Regions from separate parts of the Homo sapiens genome. Here all the other regions are linked to region 2. The links come from fine-mapping of genetic effects on gene expression. A gene starts in region 2. Each other region holds a variant in brackets. All regions are shown on one strand. Distances are from middle to middle.

Region 1 (4,131 bases), 620 kb after region 2:
TTCACAAGGAAGAGCCAACATAGTAAGTAGATAATCACATTTTGAATAGACATCTAAGAGAGAACACTGAAATTCAACAGAGGAGTGAAAGGACATACCTAAGACAGGAAGGAGAGGAGCAGCCTGCTCAGCCAAGATTGGCTGGGAGCCTGGAGAGACTCCTCAATGTGGGAAACAGATAAGTGGTCCACATTCCCACTGTGGACTCCTGCAATTATAGCCACAGGAGAGCCCCTTGACCCTCACAGGACCTAAGACCAACATAGGGAGCTGTCTGGAGACTGCACAACAGCATTGTTCCAGAAAGGAAGCTCACACTGAGTCCTATACACCTCCTAAGTCCAAAGCAGCTAGAGCACAACACTATTTTGAGATCCCATTTCCTACCAGTCTGTATCTTGCCCTGGGGAAAAATAGCCCCTGCATCTGCATATCCCCAGAGCCCCAGTGACATTCCCCACCAGCAGCTACTTCCCCTGAAGGGTAACCTACCCATAGCTACTGCCACAGCTGGCTGCTGCCACCATAAGTGCCAAAACACAAGTCACTGGCAGTGACCCGACCCCACCAGCAGAGGGGCATCCATTACAAAAGCCACCCCACACCATGCTGCTACCACTGCCAACTGCTGCCACTGCCAGGATGAAGGCTGAGCTGCCACAGGCAACTTCAACCCAACCCCTAGCAAAGGGGTGGCCATGCACTTTCACACTGCTTGCAGCTGGTGTTGCTGTGGGCTGCTGCAAAGGGGCCGAAGCAATAGCAAAGCATACACCCCTGGCTACCTGCCTGTGGCTGCTCCCAGTGAAAGCAACCCCACCCTCCTAGTAGCAGGCCTACAGCATAGTCACTGCTGCCCCTACCTAAGCATTTCACCAGTGACCTGCAGACTGCCCTGCCCCTGCCTACCACATCCAGTGCCTGAATACACACCAGTGGCGAGGGCTAAAGGCAGGTCCTCCCAGCTGGACTCCATACCCTTAGTATGCAAGCACACTATCTGAGGCATAGAGCCCAATCCACCATCCCACTCCACCATCATAGGCACCTGAGCATTCCTCCTGGGGGCCTGAGGTTGGGCTCACCCAACCTGCTGCTACCACCACAGCTGATACCCACCCATATATGCCATTTGCAGGCCTGGGCACTGGCAAGCACAGCCTGTTGCATATACTGCCAACACAAATGTGAGACACAGAGGGTATCCTGCCACTACTACTGACATCACCTATGCCACGTCTGCAGCCCAGGAGCCCAAGAATTTGCCCACCCATAGTGTCCATGGCTGCCACTCCTGGCACTCTCGAAAGCCACCTGGAGGCCCAAGAATTGGTCTGCCTGGACACAATAACACCAGTGCCAATGTATACCACTCTGGGGCCAAAGAATAAGCATACTCAGCCCACCACTGTACCACAAGGACTGGAAGACGGGCCCACCTGGTATCCCAGTCTCCATTAAAAATTCACCACAACCTCCACTAACAACTGAACCCTAGGCCACCAAGTAAATCACAGGCACCACTAACTCTGTTAATAGCTGAAGAAATCATACACAGACTACACTACTACACACGCCAAGAATCAAAGCCAAAGTGCCCTACCCAATCAACACCATACATACATCTTCAGGGAAAAAGCACCCCATTATGAAAGCAAATTCAAAAAATTGAAAGAGGGACTGCTACACTGATGCACAAATATCAGTGTAAGGACACAAGGAACATAAAAAAGCAAGGAAATACGACATCTCTAAAGGAACACAATAACTCTCCAGCAACAGATTCCAATAAAAAAGAAATTTACAAAATCCCAGAAAAAATCAAAATATTGATATTAAAGAAGCTCAGTGAGATGCAAGAGAATATTGAAAAATAATACAAAAAAGTCAGAAAAACAATTCAGGGTATGAATGAAAAATTCACCAAAGAGATAGATCTCATAAAAAAGAACCAACCATAAATTTTAAAACTGAAGAATTCATTGGATGAATTACAAAATACATTCAAAAGCTTCTACAATAGACTAGACTAGATCAAGAAAAAAAAAAGAAGTTTAAGATGTGAAAATAAGTCTTTTGAAATAACCCAGTCAGACAAAAAAAAAAGAAAACGAATTTAAAAAGAATGAGCAAAGACTACATGACATATGGGAGACCATAAAGCAACCAAATATTCCAATTTCTGTACCCTAGAAGGCAAAAAGAAGACCAAAAGTTTAGAAAACTTATTTCACAAAATAATAGA[T/C]GAAAACTTCCCAAGTCTAGCAAGAGATTTAGACAGACAGATACAGGAGACTCAGAGATCACCAAATAGATACAATTCAGAAAAGTCTTCTCCGTAGCACATTGTGGTCAAACTGTCAAAAGTCAAAGACAAACAGAGAATTCTGAAAACAGCAGAAGAAAAGCATCTAGTCACTTATAAAGGAAACTCCATCAGACTAACAGCAAATTTCTCAGCAGAAACCTACAGACCAGGAGAGAATAGGATGATATATCCAAAGTGCTGAAAGAAAAACAACTGCCATCCAAAGGTACTATACTCAGCAAAGTTGTCTTTCATAAATGAAGAAGACATAAAGTTTTTCCCAGATAAGCAAAAGCTCAGGGAATTCATCAGCGCTAGATTGGTCCTACCAGAAATGCTTAAGGAAGTTCTACACCCAGAAGTGAAAGAACAATATCTACCATCGTGAAAACACACAAAAATATCAAACCCACTGGTAGAGCAAATAGATAAGGAAAAGACTCAAATGTTACCACTACAGAAAACCACCAAACTAAAATAATAAGCAATAAGAGAAAAAAGAAAGGAACAGAGGATATACAAAATGACCAGAAATCAATTACTATGGTGATAGGAATACGCCCTCACATATCAATAATAACCTTGAATATAAACTGATTAAACTTTCCACTTAAAAGATACAGACTATCCAAATGAATTTTTAAAAACTCAAGTATATGCTGCCTATAAGAACCTAATCTCACCTGTAAAGACATACAGACTCTAAATAAAGGGATAGAAAAAGGTATGTCATGCAAACAGAAACCAAAAGTAAGCAGGAGTAGCTGTACTTATATCAGATAAAACAGACTTTAAGTCAAAAACGGTAAAAAGAGATAAAGAATTACTATATCATTGTATAATGATGAGGGGATCAAGTCAGAAAGAGGATATAGCAATTCTAAACATATACGCACCCAACACTGGAGCATGTAGACATATAAAGCACATATGATTAGATCTAAAGGGAAAGACTGACTCCAAAATGACAATAGTTTGGGATTTCAACACCCCACTCGCAACATTAGACAGATCATCTAGATGGAAAATCAACAAAGAAACATTGGATTTATACTGCACATTAGACCAAATGGACCTAACAGACGTTTACAGAACATTTCGTCCAACAGCTATAGAATATACATTCTTCTCTTCGGCACATGGAACATTTTCTAGGCTAGACCATACATTAACACACAAAACAAATATCAAAAAAAAATAAATAGAAATTATATCAAGCATCTTCTCATACCACAATGGAATAAAACTAGAAATTAATAACAGAAACCTTGGAAACTGCACAAACATGCTCTTGAATGACCAACGGATCAAGGAAGAAATTAAGGAGAATATCAAATAATTTATTGAAATAAATGAGAATCAAAACACAAGCTACCAAAAGCTATGGGATAGAGCAAAAGCAATGCTAAGAGGAAGTTTATAGCAATAAATGTCTACATCAAAAAAAAATAGAAAGAATTCAAATAAGCAATCTAATGATGGACCTAAAGAACTAGAAAAGCAGTAACAAACCACATCCAAAATTGTTGTAAGAAAAGAAATAATAAGAATCTGAGTGAACTAAGCAAAATAGAGACTAAAAAAATACAAAGGATCAACAAAATGAAAAGTTGGTTCTTTGAAAAGATAAAATTGATAAACTGTTTGCTGGACTAGCCAAGAAAAAAAGAGAGAAGACTCAAGTAAACAAAATCAGAAATAAAAAAGAAACATTTCAATTGATACCACAAAAATAGGAAAAATTGTCAGAGATGATTATGAATAACTATATATTAACAAACTGGAAACCTAGAGGAAATGGATAAATTCCTGGACACAGACAA
Region 2 (4,131 bases):
GTTGTCTTTGACCTTATTCACAAGAAATTATGGAAGTTTTCTTCATCAGTGACATCTGATTCCCTTCATTCATTCATTGATTAAAACAAACAAACAGGCTCGGTGAGGTGGCTCACGCCTGTAATCCCAGCACTTTGGGAGGTCGAGGTGGGCAGATCATGAGGTCAGGAGTTCCAGACCAGCCTGGCCAAAATGGTGAAACCCCGTCTCTACTAAAAATACAAAAATTAGCCTGACGTGGTGGCGCGCGCCTGTAGTCCCAGCTACTGGGGAGGCTGAGGCAGGAGAATCGCTTGAACCCAGGAGGCAGAGGTTGCAGTGAGCCGAGATCGCGCCACTGCACTCCAGCCTGGGCTACAGAAGGAGACTCCGTCTCAAAACAAACTGCGGTCTACATGTGAATTAATTTGAAAAATTATGCATCTTTTGACTATTCTTGAACAATCATTTCCCAAATTATTCACGAATTCACAATCTAGACTGCCTGGTCTACAGTGCCTTCTCTCCTTTCACATTCAAGCAGACTTTTTACTTCCTTCTCCTTATGCTGCTGAGAGAAAAAGAGAAACAGCATTGAATAATATTCCTCCAGTTTAATATTTTCGCTTTTAACAAATTTCGGACTTAGCTTTTTAAACCCACTGGCCTCTTTAATGGGCGCTTATTTTTTTTGTAACCAATTGTAATCACAATGTTCTAAATTAATACATGAAAATGAATATTTCAGGTTTTTCAAGAATGCAGAAGGTAAGGAATTGGAAACTTCTGTATGGGCTTTACATCTAGTAGATGCTTAATAAATACACGTGAATATCAATAATCTAAAGTTTCTCAAAATCCAAGGCCTGAAAACCAGTATGATAAACTGAACTGAAATAAACAGCCTATCACTTACTAAGCAAAACCCAGGCTCCAAGCGACTGTTGAATTTCTCCTTTCATTTCCTTTAGCGAACGATGGCTAAAGTTTTAAGATTCCATTTTTTTGCAGCGGTCCTGCCCTTTGTGACGGGCGCTATAAATCTACGTTTGAGGTTGAAGCAGTAGACAAATTATGCAGCAACTTGCTTCTGCTTTACTGTTTTTTCTGCACTATCACCCGCGTTTTCAATTCCGAAGTCAACCCTCAAGCAAGTGTTCCCTCGACATTAAACTAAGGGACTGAAGAGACATTTCGGACCAAACAACAAAGACCTGGCATTTCGCCGCAGACAGCGCGCCTCCCCTAGTAGCCCGTTGCGGACAGACCACCCCAACCCCGCAGGAGTGCGGAGCCCGGCCCGAGGGCGGGCGGGGTCAAGGGGCGAGCCTGCGCCGCCAACCGAAGGCCGCCTACAAAGAGCCGAGCCCGAGGCCAGCCGTGTAGGAAAGTAGTCGGGACTACCAGAAACGCTTCCCGGGATCTTGGCGACCACTCACCCATGGGCCGCCTGAAGGTTTTTTTCGAGAAGCACTAGATCAGCGGATCTGGCAGCTGCACCGAACATCCGGGCCACAGCGAGCTCGGCGGCTCCGCCTCCCGGTAACCCGGGCGACAGCTCCGAAGTTCCTCCCTCGCTTCCGGGTTTAGGCTCCGAGACCCCGCCCCCCGGACGTGGCTGGTTAGCGTCCCGCCCTCCTCCCGCGGAGTCAGTGGGTGAGGGTCGGGCTTGAAGCCATAGCTGCGGGACCGTACTCGTCTCCCCCGACGCAGACCATGGAGAGCGCGCTGGCGGTGCCCCGGCTGCCCCCGCATGATCCAGGGACGCCGGTGCTGTCGGTGGTGGACATGCACACGGGCGGCGAGCCCTTGCGTATCGTGCTGGCGGGGTGTCCGGAGGTGTCTGGGCCCACCCTGCTGGCCAAGCGGCGCTACATGCGCCAGCACCTTGACCACGTGCGGCGACGGCTCATGTTCGAGCCCCGAGGGCACCGGGACATGTACGGGGCGGTCCTAGTCCCGAGCGAGCTGCCGGACGCGCATCTGGGCGTCCTGTTCCTGCACAACGAGGGCTACAGCTCCATGTGCGGCCACGCAGTGCTGGCGCTGGGCCGCTTCGCTTTGGACTTCGGGCTTGTGCCGGCGCCCCCTGCGGGCACCCGCGAGGCCCGCGTCAATATCCACTGCCCCTGCGGGCTGGTGACCGCCTTCGTGGCATGCGAGGACGGCCGCAGCCACGGACCGGTGCGCTTCCACAGCGTCCCGGCCTTCGTGCTGGCCACAGGTAATGGGCGGGACCTTTCCAGCCCAGGGCAGAGCTGCAACCGGGACGCGACTAACTACATTAACGGTTTTTCTGGGCTGGAACTCTGGCAACTAACCTACTCCGCGAAACCTTGCAATTAATAGAAAGGTAAATCACTGCCAACGTGTGTCAGCAGCCTTGCGTATTTGGTGCGTGTAATTTCGATTTTCCCTGACTCCCATCCGCCTGTGGTTTTGGGAGACCCTTGAGGAGCGAGGAATTGCGTGTTACCCTGACTCAGCGCCTCCCTCTGCACTGGTGAGGCATTCCTAGAGATTTCACCGGTGGATAAAGCAAGGTACGGTGGGGTCAAGGAAAGAGCGAAGAACAGCCAATGTACCAGGGTTCCAGGCTGGCTGAGAATATGCTTGGTAGACACAGAATCACACTTAATAAGTTACTAAACCTGGTCTCCTTTCCTCACCTCCCCCACTTCTTTGAAGAATTAAATGAGAATGAATGAACAAAGCAGTTTATAAATCATTAAGATACGAATGTTGCTTTTCTTTAAGAACAGGAACACACATTGCCTGGTTTCAAATCCTGATAACCCCCTAAAGCTGTGCAACCTTAGGCAAATTACTTAATCTCTCTGTGCCTGTGTTTCTTCTTTTCCCTCATAGAGTTTTTTTGTTAGGATTAAATGAGAGTATGCAAGATACTGTATTCCTGGAGATAGATTGCAAGGTTTATATGATCGCTAAAGTTCCCTAGGCCTATTGAGCCATTAAAAGGTTTTGCTGGATTCTCTAGTACAGATCCTTGTACAGCTTATCATGTAAAGCAGGGCATCTCTATAACCATAACCCTTACAGGAGGGATGACCTGGCAAGCTGGCATCTGGTTTCTCATCAGACTACTACCTCCCAGGAGCTGAATTCTATCAGTAAGAATGCTTTAGTCATTGTGACTGGAAGTGAGCCAGGAGCCAGTTTACCAGGAATAGAGTTATCCTTTTCTTAAAAATCTTCAAGCCATGCAAATCATCTGTTAGAAAGTTGGACCTTGATTCCCCCTGAAGAACTAGGTTTCAGATTAGCCTGATTATGAATGATAACTGATAGAACAGGCACTTTTAGAGCAACCTTAGGCAGCTGAAATCCACGAGTTAACGAAGAATGCCTCTGGAGAAATTGATGCCATTTTCCCAGAGAATGGTGTCACTTCCAGACTGGGAGGCCACTTGAGGGAGACAGAATTTATGTTTACGATTCCATTTTTAAAACCTCAACAGTTTAACTAGCGTGGCTACCAGAATTCCCCCTAGGCAACTCCAGCAGCAGAGTAGAAACACTCTAGACTTCTGTAGGAAATGGCAGCTGGCAGCAGGAACACAAACTACATCTCATTTCTGGGTCAGTTAGGGCAGGGTCAGTCAACCACTTGACCTCAGTAGTTCCTCTCAGTAGTTCCTGAGAGCATCACTGTATGACAGTACAATGATTAGTGGGCATTAATGGTCACTGAGTTAAGAAAATGAAATGCTATATTCTCTACTTTGAAAAATGCATACAAGGCAGACATAGTGTTCAAGGTCACTGCCCCACCTCTCCCCATCTCAGTGACCTTGTGCTAGAGAGTCCATGCCTCAGTATCACAGTCTGCAAAATGAGGATGACAACAGTACCCACCTCAGAGGGTTGCTGAGTTCATCTCCACCCCACCAGGCTAAAATGCAAACTCTTTCTTGTTCACAGTATTCTAAGTGCCTAGAAGAGTAGTCAGTCAATGAATGTTTGTTGAATGAGTAACTAAATAAATGAAATTTGGAGAAGAATATGCTGATTGACAAATGTAAACATCTGGTCCTCTTGAGAAACCTATTGCCACTGGAAATTAAAGTTTTGGCTTTCGAGTCCCTAATCTGTGCCAGGAACTCCCCATACGTGGAATTTTCAAAACAACTC
Region 3 (4,131 bases), 64 kb before region 2:
ATCATGTGAGTAAACCAAGATTTAGCCTCAAAATATTCAATGAAGCCTTCATTAGGATAGTGAAAAATTGGGGGTGAGGGTGAGTAATACAATTAAAATTCAACCAAAAGGCCTTGGTTAAATAAGTATCAGTATTGCTCATAATACGTTATTGAGTGACAAATACTATATTATAAAACAGTAGGCTAGTCATGGTGGCTCACGCCTGTAATTCCAGCACTTTGGGAGGCCTAGGTGAGTGGATCACCTGGGGTCAGGGGTTTGAGATCAGCCTGACCAATATGGTGAAACCCCATTTCTACAAAAATAAAAAATTAGCTGGGTGTGGTGGTGTGCACCTGTAGTCCCAGCTGCTCAGGAGGCTGAGACAGGAGAATTGCTTGAACCTGGGAGACAGAGGTTGCAGTGAGCTGAGATCGCACCACTGCACTCCAGCCTGGGGGCAGAGCAAGAGTCCCTCTAAAAAAGAGAAACAACAGTATGTATGATATGATCCCATTTAATTACTTATACACACAAATATACATACACACTAGACATAACTGAAATTCTTCTTGTCCCTTGTATTGAAGGAGAAATATCCTTAGTATCTCTTCCCAACACCTCATATATCCAAACTTAATTTCCTTTCTTTTCTTTCTTTTTTTTCTTTTTCTTTTTCTTTTTTTTTTTGAGACATAGTCTCACTCTATCACCCAGGCTGGAGTGCAGTGGCATGATCTCAGCTCACTGCAACCTCTGCCTCTGGGGTTCAAGCGATTCTCCTGCCTCAGCCTCCCAAGTGGCTGGGATTACAGGCTTGTGCCATGACACCTGGCTAATTTTTGTACTTTTAATAGAGACAGGGTTTCATTATGTTGGTCAGGCTGGTCTCCAACTCCTGACCTGAAATGATCCACCCACCAGGCTGGAATGCAGTGGCATAGTCACAAATCACTATAGCCTCAACCTCCCAGGCCTAGGTGATCCTCCTGCTGCAGCCTGCTGAATAGCTGAGACTACAGGCACTCAACACCATGCCCAGCTAATTTTTAAATTATTTGCAGAGACAGGTCGCTTTATGTTGCCTCGGCTGGTTGTGAACTCCTCAGTTCAAGCAATCCTCCTGCCTTGGTCTCCCAGAATGCTGGGGATTACAGGCGTGAGCCACCACCCCTAGCCACACATACTTAATTTTAATTGTTCAGGACTTGGGTCAGGTACTCTCTGTCTACATCCTCTATCTTTGTTTTGCCCAAGTCAACCAGGATATAAAATTCACATTTTTCACTAGTTTCTAAAACAAATTTAATTACACTAAGCATTTCATGATCTATTGCAAACTCTGTTGGAAATTTTAGTGGTCATGGGGAGAAATCCTGTTGCAGAGCACAAAGCCATCTTGTTCACCACCTTTTCTTTCTCTCACAGTTCCTCATCTATCTTCTTGCTGTAGGATACCACCCCACATCCAAATTCTTCTCCCTCTTTTACAAAGCATAATATCTGCCTCTGTACCCATGCCCTGAGGCTCATCAGGGATATCAAAGGCAGCTCCCTCCCAGAAGAATGATTTGTACCAATTAAATGCTTTCCATTTTTGCTTTTGTGAGCTATCAGCATGAGAGATGGCTTCCCCTCTGGGCTACTGTGATTCTTTTATTTGCAAGGATACCTAACAACAGACAGAAACCAGACAAGGTTGGTTTGTTGGCTGGTTGGTTGGTTTCGAATTTGTCTTTCATTTTGTGAGCAAAATATTATTTTTCCTCCCATTTGTTTCCTACTGCAGAAGCTAGTAGACAACTTTCTGACAATAACTCCACATTTTCTAGCCCACATGATTTTCTGAACAGTCTAGGACCCCTAAACTGGCATGGCTTACTTGGTCAAAGAGTTTTCCTTTAATCCATAGCCCTTAGCCAAATTCCATGGTTATAAGTGAGTGATCACTTCAAAGAATGCAAGGCTCTTGCTTATTTATTATTTTCACTAGGGTAGAAACTATGGGCTCTTAGTGACATCCAATCATAATTCTCATGAGTTATTGGAGGAACATTCAAAGATTGACATTCAACTCAAACTTTACCTTTTTTTCCCAGCATCTCCCCTCCCTCACCAGCCCTTGGCAACCACCATTCTACTCTCTACTTCTGAGTTCAGTTTTTTTTTAGATTTTGCGTATAATTGGGATCATGTAATATTTGTTTTTCTGTACCTGAATTATTTCACTTAACATGATGTCCTCCAGGTTCATCCATGTTGTCACAAATGACAAGAATTTCTTCTTTTTTAAGGCTGAATATATTCAATTGTGCATGTATACATTTTCTTTATCCATTCATCGGCTGATGAACACCTAGGTTGATTCTACATCTTAGCTACTCTGAATAGTGCTGCAATGAACATAGAAGTACAGATATCTCTTTGCCATACTGATTTCATTTCCTTGGGATATATACCCAGCAGTGGCATTGTTGGATTTAGCTTTGTTATTATAAAAT[A/G]TTACACATTACAGAACAATACATAAACCATAAATATACAATATTTATGTACATATTTTTGATGAATATAATTTATTAATTTTAATGAAGTCCAGTTTATCAATCTTTTTAGTTAATGTTCTCTATGTCCTATGTCATGAGACTATTCTCTTCTGTTACCATTGAGAAGCTTTGTTGTTTGACCTTTCACATTTAAGACTACGAACCATCTGGAATTTATGTGTATGTGCTTTGAGATAGTGGTCAAGATTCATATTTTTCCATAAGGTTGTCCAATTAACCAGCACCATTTACTGAAAATACAATCCTTTCCTTCACTACATTGTGGTCATACTATTGTCATAAATCAAGTATAGATCATAAATGTATATGTGGATTGTTGACTCTATTCATTTGAACTATTCATCTCTCCTCACACTAAAACAATATTGTCTTAATTAGTACCTTTAAAATGAGTTTTTATGGCCAGTGGTATAAATCCTTCACCTTTGTTCTTCAAAAGTGTTCCAGCTATTCTTGACCTTTTCAATTTTGTCACGTTCTTCCAAAAAACCTGTTTGGATTTTGATTGGGATTGTGTTAAATCTGTAAATCAGTTTGAAGAGGGTTTCACATTTTCACAGTATTGAGGCTTCCAATCCGTTAACATGGCATATGTCTTTTGTTTTAGATCTTCTTTGTTCCCTTTGCCTTAGCTGTTCAGTTGCACTATGATGTGTCCAAATTTTCTTTTCATTTTTCCTCCTTGGGATTTATTTGGCTTCTTAAATCTGAGAATTTCTATATTTCATAAGTTCTGCAAAATTTTCAGCCATTATGTCCTCACCTGTTTCTTTTGTCCTATTCTCCCTGTGTTGCCCAGGCTGGTCTCTAACTCCTGGGCTCAAGTGATCCTCCCACCTCCGCCTCTCAAAGTGCTAGGATTACAGGCACGAGCCACCACACCTGGCCTATAGTAGATTTTGATTGCTTTGTTTTACAGTATTGATTTTACTCAAATGTTGAGAAGCTCTAGATATTTGTTCATCTTTTAATTGTGCATTCTTTTTTATTTATTTATTTATTTATTTTTGAGACAGGATCTCACTCTGTCACCCAGACTAGAGTGCAGTGGTATGATCATGGCTCACTGCAGCCTCGGACCTCCCAGTCTCAAGCAATCCTCCTGCCTCAGCCTTCCAAAGGGTGAAGCTCTTTGGAATCCCAGACTAAAATAGTGGGAGGTTTATGTAGGCTCAACACCTGGATGAGCATTACATGTTGGCTTTTGTTCCACTTGCCATGCAAAAAAACCCAAAACTTGGTTTTCAAGTGGTTTCTTCTATGTTAGTAAGTGTTTTCAAGGCAGAGGAATTTTAAGTGCTAGCCTTACCGCTCTGGATTCTTCATTCTCCTAGAATTAGGCCTAGCAATCACCTATTATCCTTTATTTTTTATTTTTATTTTTTTAGATTCAAGCACATGTGCAGGTTTATTACAAGGGTATATTGCATAATGCTGAGATTTGGGCTGCTAATGATCCCGTCACCCAAGTAGTGAACATAATACCCAATAGGTAGTTTTCCAACCCTTCCCCACTTCTTCCCTCCATCTTTTTGGAGTCCCAGTGTCTATTGTTCCCATCTTTGTGTCCATGTATACCTAATAT

What was found. PIP is the estimated chance that this variant, and not a neighbour inherited with it, causes the effect. A credible set is the group of variants that fine-mapping cannot tell apart.
Region 1: its variant is the best candidate, but not a certain one, in a credible set for the expression of L3HYPDH in ovary (GTEx, PIP 0.87).
Region 3: its variant is the best candidate, but not a certain one, in a credible set for the expression of L3HYPDH in whole blood (TOPMed, PIP 0.64).

Annotation. Positions count from the first base shown.
Region 1 is chr14:58,857,121-58,861,251 of GRCh38, reverse strand. All of the region lies in intron 1 of LINC01500 (long intergenic non-protein coding RNA 1500), which reads right to left. Among named protein-coding and RNA genes, the nearest start is that of LINC01500, 31 kb to the right of the region's middle. The variant T/C (reference allele first, on the strand shown) is at 2,246.
Region 2 is chr14:59,481,881-59,486,011 of GRCh38, reverse strand. It overlaps L3HYPDH (trans-L-3-hydroxyproline dehydratase), which reads left to right and starts at 1,604. Exons shown (of 5, transcript NM_144581.2): 1 at 1,604-2,203. The coding sequence starts at 1,696. JKAMP (JNK1/MAPK8 associated membrane protein) reads right to left here and starts at 1,495. Exons shown (of 7, transcript NM_016475.5): 1 at 1,419-1,495. The coding sequence starts at 1,422. RefSeq lists an enhancer at 1,250-1,529.
Region 3 is chr14:59,546,261-59,550,391 of GRCh38, reverse strand. The region is part of intron 8 of CCDC175 (coiled-coil domain containing 175); the gene reads left to right. Among named protein-coding and RNA genes, the nearest start is that of CCDC175, 28 kb to the left of the region's middle. The variant A/G (reference allele first, on the strand shown) is at 2,484.